Homo sapiens: one gene and its partners. The protein of the gene in region 5 purifies or fractionates together with the protein of the main gene of each other region. This does not show direct contact. Each region holds a gene or a part of one and is shown on either strand. Other genes may lie near its edges. The genes, in order: HDAC1, SINHCAF, SIN3A, RBP1, ING1, RBBP4 and RBBP7.

Region 1 (3,500 bases), on a different chromosome or scaffold from region 5:
CCTTCTAATTGGTCCCTCTACCTTCAATTCACACTACCTGCCACACTGTCACCAGAGTTATTTTCCTAATCCACAATTCTGATAACATCACTCCTTCGCTCAAAAAATCCTTATGGCTCCCCATCCCCTACAGGATAAAGAGTAAAGAATAACTTTAATAGAGATAGGCATGGTGGCATGAGCCTGTAATCCCAGTTACTCTGGAGGCTGAGGCAGGAAAATCACTTGAGCCCAGGAGTTCAAGACCAGGCTGGGTCTCAACATTTAATAATAATAACTTCAGAAGACTGGCATTCAAGGACTTTCTTTTTTTTGAGACAAGTCTCGATCTGTTGCCCAAGCTGGAGTGCAGTGGTGCAATCTCAGCTCACTGCAACCTTCGCCTCCTGGGTTCAAACAATTCTCCTGCCTCAGCCTCTCAAGTAGCTGGCATCACAGGCATGTGCTACCATGCCTGGCTAATTTTTGTATTTTTAGTAGAGAAGGGGTTTCACCTTGTTGGTCAGGCTGGTCTCAAACTCCTAACCTCAGTTGATCCACTCACCTCGGCCTCCCAAAGTGCCGGGATTACAGGTGTGAGCCACCGCGCCTGGCCAGCATTCAAGGACTTTCTTTTACTTTATTTATTTATTTTTTTGAGACAGAGTCTCGCTGTGTTGCCCAGGCTGGAGTGCAGTGGCGCGATCTCAGCTCACTGCAAGCTCCGCCTCCAGGGTTCACGCCATTCTCCTGCCTCAGCCTCCCGAGTAGCTGGGACTACAGGCGCCTGCCACCATGCCCAGCTAATTTTTTGTATTTTTAGTACAGACGGGGTTTCATTGTGTTAGCCAGGATGGTCTTGATCTCCTGACCTTGTGATCTGCCCGCCTCGGCCTCCCAAAGTGCTGGGATTACAGGCATGAGCCACCGCGCCCGGCCAAGGACTTTCTTAATCTGCCTTTCCAGCTTCATCCAAGGACTTTCTTAACCTGCCTTTCCAGCTTCATCTCCTGCTACCACCCTTTCCCACAACACACACACACTCACTCTCTCTCTCTCTTTGCTCTAGACTGGAGTAGGCAAACTATGGCCCTTGGGACAAATACAACTAGTTGCCTGTTTTGGTAAATAAAATTTTATTGGAACACAGCCATGCCCATCCGTTTACAGTTCCTCTATGGCTGTTTTCACACTACAGTGGCAGAGCTGAGCAGTTTAGTTGCCACAGACACCCAAGCATATGGCAAAATAAAGCCTAAAATATTTACTATCTGGCCCTATATAGAAAAAGTTTGCCAACCTGTGCTCCAGACACACCAGATTATGATCAGTATCCTGAACATGACATTCACCTTCACACCACAGTATCCTCTGTGCAGACTATTCCTTTGACCTGAAATGTCCTCCTTTCTTTGATGATGCTCATACTACAAAGCCCACCTCAAGCTCCAAACCCTTTCTTGATCAAAATAAATGGTCTTTTCCTCTACATGCAATTTGTATACAGCACTTCATTAGTTTTCTTTTCTTTTTTTTTTTATTTCTTGAGACGGAGTCTCACTCTGTCGCCTAGGCTGGAGTGCAATGGTACTATCTCGGCGGCTCAGTGCAACCTCTGCCTCCCAGGTTCAAGCAGTTCTCCTGCCTCAGCCTCCTAAATTGCTGGGATTACAGGTGCGTGCCACCAAATCCAGCTAATTTTCATATTTAGTAGAGGTGGGGTTTCACTATGTTGGCCTGGCTGGTCTGGAACTCCTCACCTCAAGTGATATGCCCACCTCAGCCTCCCAAAGTGCTAGGATTGTTTTATATCTGAATTATTTACATGACTATATCCACAAGACTGGGTACCCCTTGAAGGCAAGGATTAATATGCCTTGTATATCACAGAGGCTCAATAAAGATTCAATGAATTGAATTGAGACTCAGAGAAGTTAAGTGCCTGCTCAAGATCACACAGCTAATGACTGATCTGGAGTCCACTCTTCGGACTCCAAATCCAATATGCTAAAAGCTACATTGGATTTTCCTTTTTTCTTTTTTTTTGAGACAGAGTCTCGCTCTGTCGCCCAGGCTGGAGTGCAGTGGTGCGATCTCGGCTCACTGCAAGCTCCGCCTCCAGGGTTCACGCCATTCTCCTGCCTCAGCCTCCCAAGCAGCTGGGACTACAGATGCCTGCCATCAAGCCCGGCTAATTTTTTTTGTACTTTTAGTAAAGACGGGGTTTCACCGTGTTAACCAGGATGGTCTTGATCTCCTGACCTCGTGATCCGTCCACCTCGGCCTCCCAAAGTGCTGGGATTACAGGTGTGAGCCACCGTGCCAGGCCCTACATTGGGCTTCTCAGGTACCTACTTCAGTTTGCACTTAATCTAGAGGGCTCTATAAGTCTACCTGATAGAAAATTCCTTGAACAATGTTGCAAAATCAAGTGAACTACACACCCAAAGATCTCTCCTTAGAGATTTATTAGGATGAGGCAGAGCTCTAGGCACCCAGTGAAAAAAAGGCATGAGCCTTGATCCCTAGCAACTCCCTTGCCTATCAAGCCTAGATCCAGCCAAGGCTCAGACCTGGGGGACTAAGATATCTTATCCAGAAGGTTAAGGGAGTATCTGAGGTGAGGGTAGTGAGGGTGGGGCTCTGAGACAGCATCCTTTTCTTTTTATGTTTTTTTTTGTTTGATGTTTTTGTTTGTTTGTTTGTAGAGATGGCATCTTGCTTTGTTGCCCAGGCTGGTTTCAAACTCCTGATCAGCCTTCTAAAGTGCTGGGATTACAGATGTGAGCCTCCAACAGTGCAGGCCAACCATCCTTTTCTTAACAGTTTTTAATTAGTTTGCCAACCCGTGCTGTGTGTATTCCTATACACATTGACAAATGCTATGACAGGGGAGCACACAGCATGAGGGACACTGTCCACTTCCTTAGAATTCCACCCTGGATCCTCTTCTATATAACTTCTTGGGTGACTGCATCCTTTATGATTAAATTTACTGTAATTAAAATAAAGATATATCTCTATATCTTAATCAGGTTGCTGAGAGACTTTAAAAGAAATGGTCCTTTTTATTTAGGTACTACTTAATTTTAATTTTTATTTTTGGAGACAGAGTCTCACTCTGTCACCCAGGCTGGAGTGCAGTGGTGCGATCTCAGGCTCACTGCAACCTCTGCCTCCCAGGTTCAAACAATTCTCCTGCCTCAGCCTCCTGAGTAGCTGGGATTACAGACATGTGCCACCACGCCTGGCTAAGTTTTGTATTTTTAGTAGAGTCAGGGTTTCACCATGTTGCCCAGGCTTGTCTTGAACTCCTGACCTCAAGTGATCCGCCCACCTCGGCCTCTCAAAGTGCTGGGATTACAGACGTGAGCCATGGCGCCAGCCATACTTTAAACTCTTAAAGAGCTTTCCCATCATTGTTCTCATAATAGGAACTCCTATCATTTTGATTTTATAGGAGAGAAATCTGAAATGTAAGGTGACTTGCCTGATATTACAAAGCTTCTCAATGGCAGAGC
Region 2 (3,500 bases), on a different chromosome or scaffold from region 5:
TTCCACATGAATAACCATGTTGTTCTTAATATCCTAGCAACACTTATTGAACAGACCATTTTCGCCCACCAATCACCCCCACATCATGTATCACATAACAAGTGCTATATACATATGTGGCCTTGTTTCCAGGCTCTCTATACTATTCCATTGGTTTATTTTTCTATTCCTAGTCCCAAAACACATTAATTACCATGGCTTCATAATATGTCTTGATTTCTGTTAGGGCAAGTTTATCCACATCTTTCTTTTTCTTCTGAAGATGCCTATTTTGGGCCCTTTGCTTTTCTATATAAATTATAAATTAGCTTGTAAAGTTCCATAAATATGTTGGGATTTTGACTGCAATTACCCTGAATCTACAAAGTGATCATCTCCCTAACAGTCAGTTTAATAATATCTATGAATGTGCTATACCTCTCAATTTATTTAGGTGTCTTTAAATGTTATTCAACGGCCGGGCGCAGTGGTTCATGCCTGTAATCCCAGCACTTTGGGAGGCCAAGGCGAGCAGATCACCTGAGGTCAGGAGTTCACTATCAGCCTGGCCAGCATGGTGAAACCCAATCTCTACTAAAAATACAAAAATTAGCAGGGTGTGGTGGTGCATGCCTGTAATCCCAGCTACTCCGGAGGCTGAGACAGGAAAATCGCTTGAACCCAGGAGGCGGAGGTTGCAGTGAGCCAAGATCACACCACTGCACTCCAGCCTAAGTGACAGAGTGAGTCTCTCTCTCTCAACATAGACATATATTTATATATATACATACACACACACACACACACACACACACACACACACACATAAATAAATGTTATTCGACAATATTGTATGATTTTTACATAACTCCTCCAAAGGGCTTTTGATATTTTACTACATTATTTTATATTTCCTAACACTATGATAAAATGTATCATTCTAATGCCAAACTGCCTAGATTTAAATCCTGCTCTACTTACTATGTAACCTTAAACAAAGTACTTCCTCTTTGTACCTGTGTTTTCACATAATGCTTCACAGAATTGTCATAAAGACTAAATAAGGCCAGGTGCAGTAACTCACACCTGTAATCCCAGCACTTTGGGAGGTCAAGGCAGGCAGATCACTTGAAGCTAGAAGTTCAAGACCAGCCTGGCCAATATGGCGAAACCCCATCTCTACTAAAATACAAAAATTAGCCAGGCATGGTGGTGCGTGCCTGTAGACCCAGCTATTTGGGCGGCTGAGGTGGGAGAATTGCCTGAGCCCAGGAGGCGGACATTGCAGTGAGCCAAGATAACACCACTGCACTCCAGTCTGGGCTACAGAGTGAAACTCTGTCTCAAAAAAAAAAAAAAAAAGATTAAATAAATGCAAACAAAGTGGTTTAAAGTACTTTAAAGTACTTACACTATGCACTAGGCACTGTTCTAAAGTGTTTACTACTACACTACTACCAATATTGTATTGGTTAGAACCTTCTGTATAATGCTGAATAGAAATGGTGATAGTCAACACTCTTGATTTGTTCCTGATCATAGAGAAAATGCTTTCATTTTATCACAATTATGTATTATGTACTTTTGTCCTTTTTGTAAGATACCTGTTGTCTAAGTAAAAAAGTTTCCTTCTATTCCTATTTTGCTAAAACTTTTTTTTTTTTAAACCTTAAAGGAATGTTCAAATTTGTCAAACTCCTTCTTTGCACCACTAAGAAGACAACACCTTCCTTTAGAAACTATCAATGTGGGCTGGGCACGGTGGCTCACGCCTATAATCCCAACACTTTGGGAGGCTGAGGCAGGTGGATCACCTAAGGTCAGGAGTTCGAGACCAGCCTGACCAACATGGTGAAACCCCTTTTCTACTAAAAATACAAAAATTTAGCCAGGTGTGGTGGCCATGCACCTGTAATCCCAGCTACTCGGGAGGCTAAGGCAGGAGAATCACTGAACCCGGGAGGCAGAGGCTGCAGTGAGCAGAGATCGAGCCATTGCACTATAGCTTGGCAACAAGAGCAAAACTCCGTCTCAAAAAAAAAAAAAAAAAAGAAACTGTCAATGTGGTAAATTATATTAGTTGATCGTCTCATGTTCAAACCAATCTTACATACCTAGAATAACCCTAGTGGCTGATGATATATTTGTTTTGGTATCAAACTTATATCAGCCTTAAAAATGCTTGGGGCCTATGCCCTATTTTATCCATAGTCTGGAAAAGCCAGTGCATAGGCTCCAATCATCTGTTCCTGGATGTTTAGTACAACTTGCCTATTGTGGTTTGTTTGTTTGTTTGTTTGTTTTTTTAAATAGAGTCTTGCTTTATCACCAGGCTGGAGTGCAATGGTGCAAAAATAGCTTACTGCAAACCTAACCTCCTAGGCTCAAACAATCCCCTCACCTTGGCCTCTCAAAATGCTAGGATTACAGGTGTGAGCCATCACACCTGGCCTGAATCAATTTATTATGAGATTATCTCCGTTTTTCACTTTTTCTTGAGACAGCTTTAGCAACATGTCTTTTTTCTAGTACTGTACCTGCTTCACCTGTATGTTCAAATTTATTGGCATCAAGTTGTCTATAATATCCTATTATTTTTTAAATGTCTGCTTTATCTATACCTAAGTCTCTTTTCTCTTTCCTAAAATTGCTTATGTGTATTATCTCCTTTTCCTGATCCACTTTATCTCTAGTATATTTTTGGTCACGTCTTTTTGAAGGACCAACTCTTAGTTTTACTGATTCTCTCCACTGCATATTGTCTTTCTACTCCACTTATCTAGCAATAGGCAATGTAGGTACCTTGATGTGATTTTTATTTTAAATAAATTTTAATAGGAAGAACATACAAAAATCCCACTTCCCTGCTCAATTCCTGCTTAATCCACTGCAATCGTGTGTTACCAACTGTTTGCCAAATGCCATTTAATTGCTAAGGAAGTAGAAAAATACTGCCCATAATTAAGATGGTTTGCTGGTTAGAGAGATACTTTGTTTCTTTTACCTTTTCCAGTAAGTGAGATCTAAAAAGGAAAAAACTGGTGTTCTGTTAGAACCAGAAGCCATCTCTGTATCTGAGCCGTCATCTGACTGGTTACTGTAACAAGGAGATTGAGCTGGGGAGGCACTTGAGGTGGTACTGTGAGCATCAGAATCTGCAATAAAGATTAAGAGAAAAAATAAAATTTTCAATTTCATTACATGTAATTGCAACTAAACCTCAGCATAAGACACTGTGAAAGAGTTGGTAAAAAAGAAAAAGTAAAAAATAATTCATTTTCTATGCACTACTGATATTTGAAGATATTCAGACTAACGTGTTTTTTAAAGAAGTGAAGAAGATGGAATAGACATACTTCCTATTCCTCCTGCTTATACAACTAAAATCCCTGGATATTATATATAAAACAAACCTGAGACTCCAAAAGGTGATGATCATCTAGGGAGCTCAAGACCCAAGGCAAGCCATGGTGGTAGGTTCCTTAGTTTTTCTGGATTTTCCTTTTGCCTCATAATCCCCA
Region 3 (3,500 bases), on a different chromosome or scaffold from region 5:
AAAAAAGATTACAAGTCATCTTAAATCCTCAAAAATTGGTACAGGCACTGGTACTGCCTGCCACACAGACCTGGATATCTACAATGGGAGCTCCAAACATCTTTCAAGAGAAACATAATACATTTTCTAAAAATCTGTCTTCTGCCCCAAACTGCTTCATAAAACCAAAGCAAACAATGCTACCATTTTTCTAGCTATGCTAATAGTACTAGCAGACTCAAAGGACTCACAACTGGGAAACTATGTTAAAAAACAGAAAGTCCTAATTAGCCTGACACCTTTAAAACGAAACCTTCCAGGGGGATAAGATGATTTTCTTTTGGCATTAACAGGCACTATCAAATCTAACTCATCCATTACTCACCTTATCAAAAAATAACGATTCTGTTCCACCACCATGTTTGCTGGCATCTGCCATAGAAGAATCCTTCAGATTGAGCAGTTTGGGTTTCTTCTGCAAAAGAAAGATACAAACATGTGAGATTCAACGAGTGGTTTTCTCTGAATTTTATTTTTGTCTGTATTCAATGGTTTCATCACTGAAACCACTGCTGATTAATAATTTGAAACAAATGAGAGAACTCTAACCAACTCACTCCATACCCTCTAAGATTTCAACTCATATTTTCTATTTCAGTTTGCCTATTAAGTTTCTTTCTACAACAGAGGTTCAAAGATCATTCTACCCCCAAAATATTTTCTCCAGAAATGATCATGACATTACTGTGACAAACTTTTAGAATATCCTTACTTTTTCTAGGGGCCCAAAGTAACTTCATGTAGAATCTAATGCCACTGTTTTGTTCTCCTACCAGCTGAGGGAGAAAAGGCTGTTTGTAAAAAGAGCTCACAAATTGACAGAAATCAATCTTTAACCCTGAATAATATTTCAATTAAAAATTTACTTAAAAAGCATAATTTGCTGGGCATGGTGACTCATGCCTGTAATCCCAGCACTTTGGGAGGCCAAGGTGGGCAGATCATGAGGTCAAGAGATTGAGACCATCCTGGCCAACATGGTGAAACCCCGTCTCTACTAAAAATACAAAAAAATTAGCTGGGCGTGGTAGTGTGCGCCTATGGTCCCAGCTACTCAGGAGGCTGAGACAGAAGAATCGCTTGAACCCAGGAGGTGGAGGCTGCAGTGAGCCGAGATCACGCCACTGCACTCCAGCCTGGGCAACAGAGTGAGACTCCATCTCAAAAAAAAAAAAAAAAAAAAAAAAAAAAAGGCACGCCAGCAATATCCACTCAGACTAATTTAATATTGTTCTTCTAAAGGGAACCAACAGGCCATGATATAATCCTGTCAGGCAAGAAGTTACTTTTAAAATCCACCACTTACTCTCTATGAAGAAATGCACAAACTTTGTGAGAAGTAGCACATTTACCTTGGCTATCTCAGAGTATACTTTCTTAAGAGCCGCAGCCTCTGCTTACACTGCCTATGGAGAAAGTAGGCGGAGAATTTTAAGCCCCCACTATATTCTTGCCACCTGTAGGTAATCAAGAGTGGGCGGACGTAAATCCAAGCATGGAGTGTATCTACTGAGCTGATTCTTGCTACCCATATAACTAATTCTCTTTATTGAAATGAAGAAATAGAAACCATTATTATGTTCAACTTGATTTCAAAAGATTTCAAAAGAAGAAACCATGACAAACACTAATGAAAAGGATACTTCAAAAGTGTCAGTAACACCTAGTACGTCAGACCTTGTAGTCAGTCAATCACTATTCATCAGCCACCTCTTACTATTAGAAATTCCCAAACTTTTGTCATTATTTAATTCTGCAGACATATCTGTCTCTTCTATATTACATACTGCTTTGAAATTCACTGAAGAATTAAACATTCAATACATACAACTAGCCCTCTCCCTATCATAGCTGTGTTACATCAAAGAAGGGAGCAAGCTAAGTTTTCTGCAGGCAGACCATCAGTGTTAACTATAACAAAAAACATCATGTAATGGATTACTAAGAGGAGTTTAAGACTTCCCTCTGCTACAGCCCAAAGGTCCTGCCTTGGAGATTAAGATGATACACATAAGATCTGGTAACCCAACAAAGAACTTTGAGCAGGACAGGGTTCTAGACCAGAGATCTCAAAAAACACATGCACTCTACTCACAAGAGGACCTCAGAGACCACTTATTTCTGAAATAATTCTCAAGCTCAAGAATGTTCTTTCTTAACACAAGGCAGATTTAAAGCATCAAAGAAGAAGGGGCCAGGCGCGGTGGCTCACGCCTGTAATTCCAGCACTTTGGGAGGCCGAGGTGGGTGGATCACCTGAGGTCAGGAGTTCAAGACCAGCCTGGCCAACATGGCGAAACCCCATCTCTACTAAAAATGCAAAAATTAGCTGGGCGTGGTGGCACACGCCTGTAGTCCCAGTTACTCAGGAGGCTGCGGCAGGATAATTGCTTGAACCCGGGAGGCAGAGGTTGTAGTGAGCTGAGATCACACCACTGCACTCCAGCCTGGGCGACAGAGCAAGACTCCATCTCAAAAAAAAAAGAAGGGAAAAAAATTTCAAGTATTGGAAATTCTTAGTAGCAACCAAAACATTAAAGAAATGACAGCTCATTGCAAAGGAGAGATAATAAAGAACTCAGAAAAGTACAGTAATCCAAGCAATCAATGTTATTCTAATACTCTTTTGCAAAGCCAGATAAACTCTGCACTGAGTTTCTGTGACACAATACTAACTTCCTCCAAATATCTAGGACCCAACCGTTAACACACTTAAGAACACATGACTGCCGGGCACAGGTAATCCCAGCACTTTGGGAGGCCGAGGCGGGCAGATCATGAGGTCAGGAGATCGAGACCATCCTGGCTAACACGGTGAAACCCCGTCTCCACTAAAAAAAAAAAAAAATCAGCCCGGTATGGTGGCATGCGCCTGTAGTCCCAGCTACTCGGGAGGGCGAGACAGGAGAATCGCTTGAACCCGGGAGGCAGAGGTTGCAGTGAGCCGAGATCGTGCCACTGCACTCCAGCTTGGGCGACAGAGCGAGACTCGGTCTCAAAAAAACAAAAAAAAACAACAACAACAAAACACATGACCACCTCTAGAGTACCTCTCCATTAGAAATACTTGTGAGTGTCAAAATGAGCAGCTGCTGCCCATTCTCACCTTAACTGGAGGGGTGGTTCCTGTAGGATGTCTGCGGATCTGGCAGCCATTCTGGCTGGGCCTCTGCGGCTTGTTGTTCAGTTGGGGCTTCTTGACAGTGCCTCCATGATCATTTCTCACAGAATCAACCTTCTCAGCAGTTGTTTTGCTTAAAAGCTGATTAAGACACATGAATGAGATTAATGCTCTTATCAAAGCAAACAAATATCATCTAGGAAAAGTCCCCTTCTGAGCACAGTTTTCCAACTCATCTAAGATAATAATAGTAAATAGTGTAATTCTTATTAAAAAAACATACCACGGAGCTGTTGGCATCTGGTAGGAATTGTCCAAACTCTGACAACAAATCTTCCTG
Region 4 (4,033 bases), on a different chromosome or scaffold from region 5:
ACCCTGGGGAAGGTGGTGCTAGAGGGGAAGAAAATGTTATCTGCTGTCACTTAGGCTGTGATTTGTGCAAAAAGCGATTTAAAAGAGGTAGTCAAAAAGAGGGTCAAAAAGTCAGCCCATGTGATTATGTCATCTACTTGGTGGCAAATGCAGTTAAACCACAATGACATACCCACGCAGGTGACAAAGGAGATGTGATCAAAGATTTTCATTGCAGTACTGCTTTTAATAGTGAAAGATCAGAAACAATATAGTTTGTCCATCAGGGGACAAGCTGGATAAGCAATGGAATACTCCGTAAAATAATGGGGATACTTTCTATGTACAGCTATGGAAAAGTCTCCAGAATATATTAAGTGAATAAAGCAAAGTCCAGAACACCGTGGAGTACAGTGCTGCCATTAGGTGAAACGGGAGGAAACATTAATAAACAGTATATTGCTTACATTTGCATAAAGCAGCAGTGGATCTCAAAGTTGATTGTGCATCAGAATCACCCAGAAGGCTTTTTTAGCCACATGCACTTCAAATAACATCAACTATTTTACTTATTTATTTATTTATTTATTGAGCCAGAGTCTCACTCTGTCGCCCAGGCTGGAGTGTAGTGGCACGATCTCGGCTCACTACAACCTCCTCCTCCCGGGTTCAAGCTATTCTCCTGCCTCAGCCTCCCGAGTAGTTGGGACTACAGGCGCCCGCGACCACGCCCGGCTAATTTTTTGTATTTTTAGTAGAGACGAGGTTTTACCGTGTTGCCCAGGCTGGTGTCGAATTCCTGACCTCAGGTGATCCGCCCGCCTCGGCCTCCCAAAGTGCTGGGATTACAGGCGTGAGCCGCCGTGCCCGGCATCCTTTCTTTTATTTTCGGGAGAGACGTGGAAAGTGCCCCAATTTTCTCGCCCGTAGTTGAACCTCCCAGCTTTCCTGACCCCAGCCACCACCGGCGCGAGGCTTTAGACAAAGGCCTGTAAGTGGCCTCTTTCCTTAATCACGCCAGCACAAACCCCAGGAGATTGTTTCCCAACTCCCGAGTGGCTGCTGAGTGTGAGAAGTTAATGGCGTTTGAAGGAAATCCCCAGCAGCCGAAGAGTTCGGCCAACAAAGCAAACGTCCCGTCTCCGGTCTCCTCTTCCTTTGTAGGGGAAACGAACTGAACGTCTGAAACGAAGGTGGCGCGGCCTGGACAAACCTGACCCTTCGACATCCCCCGCCCCTGCGCCCGCCCTCGCTAAGCGGGGAGGAGCGACCGCTACAATGGATCCTCCCGCAGGCTTTGTGCGCGCTGGGAATCCAGCTGTCGCCGCCCCGCAGAGCCCCCTGTCCCCGGAGGGCGCTCATTTCCGGGCCGCCCACCACCCGCGTAGCACCGGCAGCCGCTGTCCCGGCAGTCTCCAGCCGTCCCGCCCGCTTGTGGCCAACTGGCTCCAGTCACTCCCCGAAATGCCAGTCGACTTCACTGGGTACTGGAAGATGTTGGTCAACGAGAATTTCGAGGAGTACCTGCGCGCCCTCGGTAAGCGCTGCCCGCTGCGCCCTGGGCGCCCCGCCGAGCAGCTCCGGGCCGCTCCCTAGAGCCCTCCCGAGACGCTGCCTGCCTGCCTCCATCCCGGCGAGCCGCGGTCCGGTGCCCCCGGACGCCAGAAAGGGCGTCCTCGGCCACCGCTCCCAGGGCAGCCCCCAGGCTGCAGATTGGAGAATTCGGGGTTGTTAGGTTAACCGGTGGCAAATGTCTGCTCGTTGGCCCTGGAGGTGGGTAATTTCATTAGTAAATCTGGGGCTTGGTTTGCTACTTTTTGTTTTTAAACGGTTAACATAAGAGCAGAAAACTTTGTTGGGGGCGGCAGGGGAGGCACAGGCAGGCTGTGCGCAGAGACAACGCAAAGCCAGCGGGAACCCTAACAGTGTTCGCGGGCGGAGAGGGCTCCTGGGGCCCCGCTACCTTGGGAACGGTTCTCTGAGTTTCCCTGCCAACTCTCTGGCGCTCTCTCTCTCCCCGTTCAACCCCCACCGCAGACGTCAATGTGGCCTTGCGCAAAATCGCCAACTTGCTGAAGCCAGACAAAGAGATCGTGCAGGACGGTGACCATATGATCATCCGCACGCTGAGCACTTTTAGGAACTACATCATGGACTTCCAGGTTGGGAAGGAGTTTGAGGAGGATCTGACAGGCATAGATGACCGCAAGTGCATGGTGAGGATTCGCGTCCACCTGGTGTCTCCTGCCCAGGGGGCCTGACCAAGGGCTGGGCTAGTTCATCCGAGAGGGGGCAAGGGCCTGAGGGACTGAAAACTCTTCCCACTCTCAGCCCCCATGGTGGGCAGCACCAACTCATGAAGCATCCTGCTCTATCTACACTGGAAGGTGATGGTTATGAAGGCTGCCATGTGCTGTGTCTCCACTGCGTTCAGGCACTCTGCCCGGTGCTTTATGCACATGACTTCACCTAAGCCTCACACAGCCTTTGAGGGAGATATGAATATGCCCATTTTACAGATGAAGAAACAGTCTCAAAGAGATGAAGTAACATGTCCAGAGTAGCACAGCTAGGGAGGGTCTGGAGTTCAAAGCATGTCTGTTGATGCCGTTCTCTGGCTGACTGGGCTGGTGGAGGGTAAAAGAAAAGAAAGGAGGAAAGAAAAAAGAAACACAGGTAACCCCTTTGAAGTGTAAACTTTCAGTATGACTTAGTGTGAAGTCACTCCAGGAAGCTGGGGGCCCCTTGATCTCTGCTGGAAGCCCCCTGATCTGCCCATCCTTGCCCCAGAGCTGGGATTTGGCTCCTGGCCATCCCCTGCCCCACCCTGTCATCCAATGCCTACTGAGCATTCTTTGAACTTTGCAGCTGACACCTATTCAGTAAGTCAGGGCCCCTCCAGCCCAGACCAGAGGAAACAGCAGTGGGGGAAGAGGGAGGGCCAAGAGCTCCCTTCCACAAGGGTGGGAAACTCCTGACCCAGGACATCCCAATTAGTACTGCCACAGCAGATGCCGGAAGGCCAGCCCCAGGCCTCCATCAACATTATCTGGTTGCTGGGAGGTCAAGGTACTCTTGTTCTCCCTTTATAGTCTTGGGTTCAGAAGTGGCTTATGTTCATCCCAGGAGCCACCTTGCTTATTGATGGGGTCCTCACCCACCACCTCCCACCATTTACCAAGGGTCTTTACCGCTGGTCTGCTGTGTGTCCAGCACTGTGCTAGTCATCTTACAGCACAGCACAGTGAGGGAGGGATAAGTAACCCCATGTTATGCAGTGACTGAGGCTCAGACAGAGGAAGAGACTTGTAAGAGATGAGACTTGAGCCCTGGGCCTTCTGATGTTGAAGCCCACAGTCCTGCTTTCTGCCAGCTTCTCTGCTGGTAGTCTGTGCAGAAACAAGATAGCTGAGGTCTGTTAGGATTGTAGTTGAAGGGATGCCCATGTCTGGGAATAGGCATCTGGAGCCTGGATGACTCATCCCCCCACCTTGTCTATTCATCTGAAGGCAGTCAGGATTGGTATCTGAGTCTGCTGTTTGGAATGATGGGAAAGAGGGGGTAGTCAGCAGGGAGTGGCCTTGGAAGGACCACTAATGGGAGAAAACACCATTGTTGCAGAGAAATGTCAGGTTGTGCCTTTAAAAATCTCAAGGACTCTTAATCTGCAGGAAAGACTCACAATAGGAAAGGAGACCTTCAGATGGCATCTGCCTTTCTCATTACTGCCCAAGACCTGCTCCCCGGCACACTGCATGGAACTTTGCTCCTTAAGAATAATCCTTACCCCCACTCACTATTGTGGAACTCACAGATCACATCGAACCTTTATTTTGGGTCACCACAAATCTGGCATGTGCTGGCTTGTACTAATTATCTTCACTCTTTCCTTCCTTTCTTCATCCATTAACACATGAAACATTTATTGATCACCTAGTAATACTAGCAAATGCAGTACTCATCAAGTGCTTACTGTCATGCCAGATGCTATTCAAACGTTACATTAGCTGACTTAATCTTCACAACACCCTTTCAAGCCTCATTTTACAGATAA
Region 5 (3,500 bases):
ACTGCCTGGACTCTGCGATGAAAGAGGCACATTCTACACGCTAAAATGGAGAGGGAGGCAGACAGTATCAATAAAACCTCTCTCCATATATGCCAAGGATTCTAGAGCCATAAATTACATTAGATAGAAGGAAAAAAGCTAGATGTCCTCGAGAGCACATCATGTCTTTAGAAGTGCACAGATGAAGCTCTTAATCATTTTGCCTAAGAAAAAGATTTAATACTTTAATGAAATATTGAAGTGTTCAGGTAAGTTCCAGGTAACTTATTACCTGGAACACTACATAAATGTGAACTACAAAAGGATATCACAACTAAATGTGTACTCTTTCTAAAATAATATATAATAAGAGGAAATGGCTTTTACTTTGATAAATGCTTTATTCAGCATTGGCAACCACCGACAGTCTCAAGTATTGAGACAACTCACATAGCTCTAATCACACCAAAAGAGAACCACCAGCCAACGTCCCAGTCACTGGCAAGTGCGTGCCTGCAGGTCTGTGACTCCTGCAGCACCTCTCTCAGCACCTGGGGAGCCTGTCCCAGGAACACCATGGCTGCTCAACACTTCCTTGAACATACAACGTTTCTTTAGTCCAGTTTACAATAGAAAGTATTATATCATAACGAAAACACTTTGGACCCTTTATCTGAACTGTAATAACTTGGTTATTATACAACAAATATGCATTGAACATCTAAGTAAAAGCAACTGTTCTATATTAGATCGCTTTTCAGTAATCTATTTTTCAAAAAGAATTCAGTACCATTTTTGTCCTCATGTCGGGATTCCAGGATCTTTCTATTGTATCTAATCATGATCTAAATCCCAAATCTTGAGTGTTTTAAGTACTTATCTGTGATTTTTTTTTAATGTCCACTGGAAATAACAAGAGTGATTTAAGACTGCCAGTCCAACACGACTCTGTATTGTATCTATTTTTTTTTAAAGAATAAGTGGCTACCCACCTGTCCTTATGAGAAACTTGAAGAAAGCTAGAGAAAAATTATCCAACATTTGAATATGCCAGTGCATTTATTTATTGGAACCACCCTCTGTGAAACATACTTTAAAAGTGTAGAACTATAGACCAACTGTTAAGCAATTTATTCAAGATCAAGCCCTTAAAGGACAGGGCTGGGCTCCTAGATTGCAAGGCTTGGCCTCTGAGCCATCTCTCTTCACCAGTTGTCTACACCAAAACTGAATATGAAGAAATCCAGGATGAGCAACTGCATTTCATTGAATCTTCATTTCTATAACTTAATTTGCATTATTACCTCCAATTAATATAGAAGTGAAAAATTAGCATGAAATTTTATATAAGCAAAGACTCAAGCTATTTTTATTGTCACTGGATGTTTATTAAGTATTTTAGTTTCATAACTTATTTTCATAAACCTTTTGTTCACTATTTGTTTGGGTAAATCTCATCAAATTTAAACACCCGAGACTCTTAAATGTTCTGGAGTTTTGTGGGAAAATAAACACCTATTTGTAAGTATTGATATGTAAAAAGTTCAAATTTTAGTATATGACCAACTACAATTTGCATTTCTCTACCAAGTAACCCTCTATAATGGAATTTCACTGTAAAACAGACACTTATGTCCAGCACAAATAAAGTTCACAATAATTGTTTATCACAAGTAAACAATCAGCAAACTTAATGTTTTACTTATAATAAATACATGCCATATACTTAGATTCTAGAAAGTCATCACTCACTACTTCTTTGTGGTAGGTAGCTTCACAGAGACTGTGAAACAGATCATGGAAAGAAACTGATTTTACCATGTGCGAAGTTAAAGGGAACCACGTATCACTCAGCGCACGGTGGCTCACGCCTGTAATCCCAGCACTGTGGGAGGCCGAGGTGGGCGGATCATGGTCAAGAGCTCGAGACCATACTGGCCAACATGGTGAAAACCCATCTCTACTAAAAATACAAAAATTAGCTGGGCATGGTGGCACGCACCTGTAGTCCCAGCTACTCGGGAGGCTGAGGCAAGAGAATCGCTTGAACCCGAGAGGCAGAGGTTGCAGTGAGCCAAGACTGGGCCACTGCACTCTAGCCTGGAGACAGAGTGAGACTCCATCTCAGAAAAAAAAAAAAAAAAAAAAATGAAAACTCCAGCCGGGCACGGTGGCTCACACCTGTAATCCCAGCACTTTGGAAGGCTGAGGCAGGTGGATCACCTGAGGTCGGGAGTGCGAGACCAGCCATGACCAACATGGAGAAACCGCGTCTCTACTGAAAATACAAAATTAGCCAGGCGTGGTGGTGCATGCCTGTAATCCTAGCTACTGGGGAGGCTGAGGCAGGACAATCGCTTGAACCTGGGAGGCGGAGGTTGCGGTGAGCCAAGATTGCGCTATTGCACTCCAGCCTGGAACTCAATCTCAAAAAAATAAAAAATAATAAATGAAAACTCCACTGACCCTTTCAATATGTGGGCAAATCAATGTTAGATGCTAGTCTAAATCAGAGGTCAGCAAACCCTTTCTGCAGAGGGCCAGAAAATAGTTTTGGCTTGTCAAGTCAAATGGTTTCAGGTGCAACTATTGAACTCTGCCGTTTTGCAAAAGCAGTCAGACAATACATACGCACATAAGCACGGCTGTGTTCCGCTGAAACTTTATTTATGGACACTAGAATTTAAACTTCATATAATCTTCAAACAGATGGTGGGCTGAACTTGACAAGTGGGCAGTAATTTCCTGACCCAGGGTCTGAATACAGATTCTTTTTTGACACGTATTTATTTGCTGGCAATTAAGTAACTTCTACTTCATTATTAATAATAAGTGAGAACAATAATACAAAATTTGCTTAAGGCTTTGTCTAAATTGCTGGTGTATAAATTTTTAAGACAAATTTTAAAAGTTACTTATGTCAAAATTAAATATACTACTAGAGGAACAAACTGGCCAAGTTTCATTTATTTCTTCACGTAACATTTTTACAGCTCACATACAGCAGGAAGCACACCTTTGCACATAATTGTGACATTAGCTTCACAACAGCATCTGCTGACTGCACTTCCAATTATAATATAACAAGTGCAAGTTCATTTGGAAATGTACATTTATACACCTGATATAAATTAAAGATGGGTACACTATGATTGGTGATAGCAAAAGCATGACTTGAGGTTCCTTGACTAGACCACTTAAGAGAAGTGTACCCAAGCATTTTAAAATGGCCATTTGGGGAACAGGCCAATAGATAAAATATCTGTCATGTAAAATTTAACCATTTACCTTTTTAAAAAATAATCTTCAAACTTTAAACCTTTGTTACTGAATTGTTATATGGATATACATCATGGCAGCAAGAAACACATTTACTATAGGCTGTATTTTTGGCGACATGGCCAATTAAAAAAAATTGTTCATAAAGTAATAATATTACTTGTATTAAAATAAAAAAGCTAAATGAAATATTTTCCTTCCACATTTAATGTGTTAGGTTGAGTTTAGTCCCCCTCCTCCCG
Region 6 (3,500 bases), on a different chromosome or scaffold from region 5:
TCAAAAAAAAAAAGAGATGAGGCCTCGCTATATTGCTTCTAGGCTGGACTTGAACTCTTGGGCTCAAGGGATCTCGCTGCCTCAACCTCCTGCGTAGCTGGAGGTGTGTGCCATGTGCCCAGCATCATTTTATCTTTGGAAACATCACATCTTGTCTGTTCTTGTGGGGTGATCTCAGTTCACTGCAATCTCCTCCTCCCATGTTCAAGCGATTCTCCTGCCTCAGCCTCTTAAGTAGCTGGGATTACAGGCGTGCACCACCATGCCTGGCTAATTTTTGTATTTTTATTAGAGACGAGGTTTCACCATGTTGGTCAGGGTGGTCTCAAACTCCTGACCTCATGATCCACCCGCCTCGGCCTCCCAAAGCGCTGAGATTACAGGCATGGGCCATCGTGCCCGGCCTACATCTTGTCTATTCTTATTTGCTAATTCTGGCCTCTACCCAAATGCAATCCAATTCTGACCTAAGAACTAAAGTACAGATGACATATACAATAACTATGTCCCCAAGTATTTACTATGAGTTCTGTATTACATATAAGTCTGATTAAAAATGACTCCATGCAATAATTTTATTAAAGAGTCAGACAAAAAATTTACTACTATATATCCAACAATCAGAGTTTGCTACCAAATATGGTAAAAGTGCTACCTAGCCTTAAGGTACAGAAAAAGAGGGCATTAGTGACCAGCAATTAAGGAAGAATTTGGATTCTGTCCAGGCAAGAATACCGTCACAAGCAAAGCAAAGAGATAGGGTAAGGATAAAATGTTCACCAAGGTGGGCTGAAAAGTAGAAAATAAGAGACTAAGTATGTAGGAGTATGGCTCACCTAAAGCCCAGTTCAGACGCCACCTTCACACACCAGAATTAATCTTTACCACCCTCAGGTTCATAACACTTGACAAAATCTTTTATTATAGTAATTTCTAAACAAGCCCTCCCTCACTATAAAATTTTGGGCTCGGCTGGGCGTGGTGGCTTACGCCTGTAATCCCAGCACTTTGGGAGGCTGAGGCAGGAGAATCCCTTTAGCCTGGGAAGTGGAGGTTGCAGTGAGCCGAGATTGCACCATTGCACTCCAGCCTGGCCAACAAGAGCAAAATGCCGTCTCAAAAAAATTAATTAAAAAAAAATAAAAAAATTGGGGGCTCCTTGATAGCAAAGGCTACATAACGTAATCTTTCATAGTGCCGTAGCAACAAGCTTTGAACATAGTGCAGTGATTATTTCTTTTTTTAATTTTTGCAATCAGACCTGGGCGATAACCTTGAGCAGGATATAAACTCCCACATGCTTAGCGTTCCAATAATGGAACACTAGGCATAAATGGGTTTAAACTGATGAGGTAGAAAATATGGAGCCAGAGGTTGAGGCTTGGGTTGAGAAATCAACACATGTGGCAAGTAATGAAGGATGAAGAATATATTGGAAGAAGGGAAGAGATCACTAAGTGTCAGAAACAAGGCTGAAAAAATAATCAGGCACTAGTTTTCCTTTCTTTGTAAATTTTTATTAAAAAATAGACAGGGTTGGCCAGGCTGGTCTCAAACTCCTGGCCTCAAGCAATCCACCCATCTCAGCCTCCTAAAGTGCTGGGATTACAGGCATAAGCTACCATACCTGGCCTAGTTTTCTTAATATCTGAAGAATGTAAGTGGTCAATAACCAGTTTGAGAAAGTATAGAAATAACAAAGAAAAAACAATTCCCACAGAAAGTAGCATAGGCATATAGATTTCTATTTTTAGCAACGGCATAAAGCACATGTGTGCCCACTCATACATCCAGGTTTTTCTTTTTTCTTTTTTTTTGAGACGGACTCTCGTTCTGTCGCCCAGGCTAGAGTGCAGTGGCACAATCTCGGCTCACTGCAACCTCTGCCTCCCGGGTTTCATGCCATTCTCCTGCCTCAGCCTCCCGAGTAGCTGGGACTACGGGCATCCGCCACCATGCCCGGCTAATTTTTTATATTTTTAGTAGAGACAGGGTTTCACCGTGTTAGCCAGGATGGTCTCGATCTCCTGACCTTGTGATCCGCCCGCTTCAGCCTCCCAAAGTGCTGGGATTACAGGCGTGAGCGACCGCGCCCAGCAGGTTTTTCTTAAAACAAACAAAATAGTAGCATTAGTTTCTCTTACCTGGAATATTTCATCCTTATGTGACTCAAAGGAATGCAACTTAAGTTTCAGATTTCTCAGATCCCACAAGGCAACAGTCTATGTACAAAAAGAAAAGCAAGAGTAATCAATTTTTTAAGAAAAAAAAAATACTGTAAGTAAAATATCTCTGCAATTCAAAAAAACCTAGAGAAATTATGTTTTCTATTAAAATAAACGAAACTGACCTTGTCAGCTGATCCTGTGGCAAGAATGAACTCACTATAAGGATTGAAAGAAAGGCAGTTCACTTCAGCAGTGTGAGCATCAACTGAGTGGCTTGGTTTGGAAGTATTGTTTGAACGAGTATCCCAACTTCAGTGAAAAAAAAACAAAGGAAAAAAACCTTGAAATGGTGACTAAACATAAAACTTAGACAAGATATTTAGAAACTCTGAATGGATTCTACTCACATCATAAGTTTCTGATCATCAGCAACTGACCCAAACAGAGACTCATGGAGTAGATGCCAGGAAACATCTTCTACTACTGCCGTATGCCCTGTAAAGATGGTCTTCGCATCTACCACTTTTCCCTCCTTTGGAACGGCACTGATGTCCCACAGGCAGATGGTCTTAAATGTAAAATTAACCATTATATAAAAGGAAGATTCTCACCTCCCCACACACCCCAAAAAAGAAACCAACTGGTAACTAGCCCAGATTTGCTTCAAAATGGGAAGGATACACACATGGTCATCTGAAGCACTAAGTAAGTGCCCACTGAGATTTGGGTTCCAAGAAAGCCCATAGCCTTCCTTCTGATGTCCACGGAGACGCAAGTCTGGGTTGCACTCTCCAGAAGGATCTGCAAAGTGACAGACACATCAAGACTACCCAGTCCACTGGCTCTCTGGGCCTACTGAGCATAATGGAATTTTGGTCAAGATGTCTAAAGCTCTTAACATTTATAAATGATATAGGAACCGTTATGATCAAATAGATAATGCTTAAACAGCACCAGTATTTTGTTCTATGTAAAAAAGCATTATTTTTTCATGGAGGCAAAATGAAGAAAAATATACACATATCAATACAAATCACAAGATGTTAAATTACACAGAGTAACATGCAATTAAACTCACAGTGAGTGGAACCATGTATTTCTATAGTGACTCATTTGTATTTGAATAGAAAAGGGCACATACCTGGTTTAGAAGGATGTTTTGTATAGTCAAAAACAAGAACATCACTGGAAGGAGTCTTTGTTGCGATGATACAAGGGTTCTGGGGCATATAACGGGCCCTGTTTACTTCTCCTTCATGGTTGATCTTGATTTCTATTTCAATTTTTCCACTAACTGAACCAAAACCTCCAAATTCTGTGAATAAATTAATT
Region 7 (3,500 bases), on a different chromosome or scaffold from region 5:
GACTTTTCAAAATTTTAAGTTTGAGAAAACAAAACTCTGTGTTCAAAGTAAATCCTACTTGGAAGCCCCGCCCCCCCCCCTTTTTTTTTTAAAGGAGAGCTCTTCAGGTTGTTTTAGCTAAAGGAATCAGGAAACTTGAGTATCTTTGTAGCAGAAGGGTTAGAGCCACTGGAGTCCATGGAATGGGATGTTGAAGGTCAAAGTGGAGCAGATTTGGAGCAGTCTCAGGAGGGAGGAGACGATTGGATCAGGAGGGGTCTTAGCATGCCGAGGCACATTTCTTCCATTGACACCATGGAACAGAAGGTGCTACGAGGAAAAAGGATCCTTTTGCATGTGGTCACATGAGAGTAGTGGGTAGAGGAGCTTTGGAGTAATCGTGGATTTGAGATACGGTTTTTTCAACCACACTGAAATAGTAAGCTATGTTTGCTTCAGAGAGGAACGGCTAGATACTGATATTAAGACATGGAAGCGAGTGTTCATTAAGCATTCCACATAGAAGGAGCTGCCTGGAACTGAGAAATGGTTTGCTCCTTTTGGTGGTTGCTCCAGGCCCCGGTCTATTTTACTTCTTACCTGTCTGGCTCCAGTAGGCATTTGTGTTAGTTGTCCCTGACCTGAGACACAGGGTGAGCTAAAATGGAATGTGCAAAGAAAAGGCAATATAGGTCAGGAAGAATAACACAATTGTAATGTGAACCCTCCTATCTTTTTAAGCGTCAGCAACTAATTCAGGTTTTTTTATCTATGAGCACAAAAAAGAATGTTCTTGTTTGCTGTATTTGCTTAGATGTTCTCTACTTGTATTCTTTCTGCTAACATGTTGCTACTTCTTGGAAGTTACCGTACTTTTTATATGACTTTGTTACTTTACAAGGCCTTTTTCATGATTATTTAATACTATAGTCTTATTCACACACCAGATGGGCGGAGAGGTTAACCTTGGCACTGCACTAGCAGTTAAACCAAGTATGCTGGCAGGGCCAATGTATGTGTGTTTAGGGACAGGTAGGGGTTAGCGTGGGTTTCTGATTGATTTGAGGATGCTTCTGACTTCAGACTCAAAGGGTGTTCATACTGTGGAGGGTTAAAACCTTTCCTGTTTTGATGAATCCTAAAATAAGATGCTAATTCAGTGCAGTACTTACAGTGAGTTGTATTTGAACTAAAAAGCTATTGGTCTGCTTATTATATGGTTACTTGAAATTTCAGTGAATAACTATATCATCTTCATAACTGAAAGAGGACAGTTGTTTTAGATCCAAGGTGGAACTGAATTAAGTTGCATAAGGCAGCTACCAATATTTTCCAGTGCAAATGGGCTTTAAGAATAAATTGATGTGGCAAATGAACCCACATTTTTGGGTTTTCTCTATGCATGTTTCTGTCTTTGTCTTGTCAGTTTGTGTTGTATTCTGCCAGGTCAAAATCTGTTAGGTTGATTGAACTAAGTGATTTGTGAATTTTAATCCTGAGTGTGTGTGTGTGTGTTTCTTTCTCCTCACATTAGAATTTGGTGGCTTTGGTTCTGTAACAGGAAAAATTGAATGTGAAATTAAAATCAATCACGAAGGAGAAGTAAACCGTGCTCGTTACATGCCGCAGAATCCTCACATCATTGCTACAAAAACACCATCTTCTGATGTGTTGGTTTTTGACTATACAAAACACCCTGCTAAACCAGGTATGTAATAATAGAGTTAGGTCATTACTTGAGCAGTTTTCTTGATTCAAACTGGTAATGTTTTTAAGGTCAAAGTAGCATACTTTATAATATTTAAAGGTTTAAAAATTGCTTTGGGGGTCCCATAACCATCCTCAAGTTCAGGGATTTGCCAGAACTACCTAAAAGCAGCTTATACTAACAGCTAAAGTTTATTACAGCAAAGAATCCAGAGCAAGAGTAGGAAGAAAAAGATACACATCAGGGGAAGTCCAGAGGGGTTAGCTACAGGCGTCTGAGTCCTTCCCATCCAGGGCCACGTGGGACATGTTTTGTCTCTAGCAGCAAACCATAGGAACATGTGCTAAATGTCTCTACCCAGGGCAGCCCATTTGAGTTTCAGAATCTGGGATTTTTGTGGAGGTCTGTTGGCGTGGGCACATCCTGTTCTATGACCAGCCATGGTAACAAAATTGAGGACCCCAATAGTGAAGCCAAATACATTGTGAATCTTGCTAAACAATCCTACAAGTCTTGACAGGTCCCTATGGCATACCCCACTGCTCTGGGCTTACAAAACTTTATCAGTCAGTGACGTGAAGAACTTTCTGAGGGTCACATTCCCAGGGGTTGGCCAAGGGTCATTTATGGTTGCAGGCTACCCTAGAGGCATGCAAGGACTGAGCAACCAGACCTGTTGTGTTAGAAATATTTCTAAAAAATTGGGGGGTTGCGGGGATACGGTCACCACTGCCCAAATTTGTAGGATAGCTATAGTTTTTAATATTTTTGTGTTGGGGATAGTATTAGGTTTTCCAAAGAAACCAATCATCTAATGGTCATGAGGCTCAATTTGCATTGGGTATTAAAGACCAGATCTCGTTCGTGTGCAGTTGCTGTAATGGTTCACTCAATGAAGGAGTGAGAATTTATTCTCACCAGTTCTGATAAACAGAGAATAACTTAATGTTTTTCATCTTTTCTTAGACCCAAGTGGAGAATGTAATCCTGATCTCAGATTAAGAGGTCACCAGAAGGAAGGCTATGGTCTCTCCTGGAATTCAAATTTGAGTGGACATCTCCTAAGTGCATCTGATGACCATGTGAGAAACGTATTCTTTGTAATTTGTTCATATAGTGAGAGCTGACGTGTCACAGCTGTGCTGAAGGAGTACTATATAGATGAAAGGTTTTCTAAGATAATACTGCTGATTATTGTGGTAACATTCCCCCAGGACTTTAGAGAGATGGTTTTCATACTGCCCTGTATGAGTCTTCGGATTCCACAGAGCTCTTTTGAAGTAGCCTTAGAATGGAGGGAGCATAGGCAAAAGGCCTCCCATTATTTAAAAGAGGACCCTCCAGGCCCTTAAAATGGAAACTGTAGAGTGTTTGTGGGACCTGATTAATATAAAGTATTTTTTAAGTGTACAGTTCAGTGGGTTTTAGTATATTCACAAAGGTGCACAACTATTGCCACTAATTCTAGAATGTTTTCATTCGCTCTCTGAAAGAGAAATTCCATACCCATTAAGCAGTGACTCCCCACTCATTCCCTGCCTTCCCCCAGCTCCTGGTAAGCACTAATTTATTTTCTGTCTCTATAGAGTTATCTGTTCTTGGTATTTCATGTAAATGGAATCTCATATATGGCCTTTTCTGTTTGGCTTCTTTCACTTAGCATAATGTTTTCAAGTAACATTACTTATGTTCCATTCCTTTTTATGGATGAACAATATTCCACTGTATGGATATACCACAGTTAGCTTATTTGTCAGTTGATGAACCATTTGAGTTCTTTCTACTTTGGGGCTATTTTGAATTATGTTACAAG

What was found.
Region 1: the proteins of ING1 (region 5) and HDAC1 purify together in Homo sapiens (affinity purification with mass spectrometry; 9 studies listed by BioGRID and IntAct, with this or other methods). This does not show direct contact.
Region 2: the proteins of ING1 (region 5) and SINHCAF purify together in Homo sapiens (affinity purification with mass spectrometry; 3 studies listed by BioGRID and IntAct, with this or other methods). This does not show direct contact.
Region 3: the proteins of ING1 (region 5) and SIN3A purify together in Homo sapiens (affinity purification with western blotting; 5 studies listed by BioGRID and IntAct, with this or other methods). This does not show direct contact.
Region 4: the proteins of ING1 (region 5) and RBP1 purify together in Homo sapiens (affinity purification with mass spectrometry, with the first as the bait; 2 studies listed by BioGRID). This does not show direct contact.
Region 6: the proteins of ING1 (region 5) and RBBP4 purify together in Homo sapiens (affinity purification with mass spectrometry; 6 studies listed by BioGRID and IntAct, with this or other methods). This does not show direct contact.
Region 7: the proteins of ING1 (region 5) and RBBP7 purify together in Homo sapiens (affinity purification with mass spectrometry; 7 studies listed by BioGRID and IntAct, with this or other methods). This does not show direct contact.

What each region holds. Positions count from the first base shown.
Region 1 is NC_000001.11:32,298,583-32,302,082, reverse strand, and holds part of HDAC1 (histone deacetylase 1), read right to left. Parts: intron 1-3,500. UniProt on the Homo sapiens protein: Histone deacetylase that catalyzes the deacetylation of lysine residues on the N-terminal part of the core histones (H2A, H2B, H3 and H4).
Region 2 is NC_000012.12:31,284,651-31,288,150, forward strand, and holds part of SINHCAF (SIN3-HDAC complex-associated factor), read right to left. Parts: intron 3,135-3,500; coding exon 2,984-3,134; intron 1-2,983. UniProt on the Homo sapiens protein: Subunit of the Sin3 deacetylase complex (Sin3/HDAC), this subunit is important for the repression of genes encoding components of the TGF-beta signaling pathway.
Region 3 is NC_000015.10:75,406,691-75,410,190, forward strand, and holds part of SIN3A (paired amphipathic helix protein Sin3a), read right to left. Parts: coding exon 3,444-3,500; intron 3,302-3,443; coding exon 3,146-3,301; intron 455-3,145; coding exon 365-454; intron 1-364. UniProt on the Homo sapiens protein: Acts as a transcriptional repressor. Corepressor for REST. Interacts with MXI1 to repress MYC responsive genes and antagonize MYC oncogenic activities. Also interacts with MXD1-MAX heterodimers to repress transcription by tethering SIN3A to DNA.
Region 4 is NC_000003.12:139,536,943-139,540,975, reverse strand, and holds the start of RBP1 (retinol-binding protein 1), read left to right. Parts: upstream 1-1,233; 5' UTR 1,234-1,257; coding exon 1,258-1,516; intron 1,517-2,016; coding exon 2,017-2,195; intron 2,196-4,033. UniProt on the Homo sapiens protein: Cytoplasmic retinol-binding protein. Accepts retinol from the transport protein STRA6, and thereby contributes to retinol uptake, storage and retinoid homeostasis.
Region 5 is NC_000013.11:110,720,200-110,723,699, reverse strand, and holds the end of ING1 (inhibitor of growth protein 1), read right to left. Parts: 3' UTR 361-3,500; downstream 1-360. UniProt on the Homo sapiens protein: Cooperates with p53/TP53 in the negative regulatory pathway of cell growth by modulating p53-dependent transcriptional activation. Implicated as a tumor suppressor gene.
Region 6 is NC_000001.11:32,668,208-32,671,707, reverse strand, and holds part of RBBP4 (histone-binding protein RBBP4), read right to left. Parts: intron 3,484-3,500; coding exon 3,310-3,483; intron 2,970-3,309; coding exon 2,854-2,969; intron 2,737-2,853; coding exon 2,576-2,736; intron 2,478-2,575; coding exon 2,351-2,477; intron 2,223-2,350; coding exon 2,145-2,222; intron 1-2,144. UniProt on the Homo sapiens protein: Core histone-binding subunit that may target chromatin assembly factors, chromatin remodeling factors and histone deacetylases to their histone substrates in a manner that is regulated by nucleosomal DNA.
Region 7 is NC_000023.11:16,856,863-16,860,362, reverse strand, and holds part of RBBP7 (histone-binding protein RBBP7), read left to right. Parts: intron 1-1,513; coding exon 1,514-1,687; intron 1,688-2,653; coding exon 2,654-2,769; intron 2,770-3,500. UniProt on the Homo sapiens protein: Core histone-binding subunit that may target chromatin remodeling factors, histone acetyltransferases and histone deacetylases to their histone substrates in a manner that is regulated by nucleosomal DNA.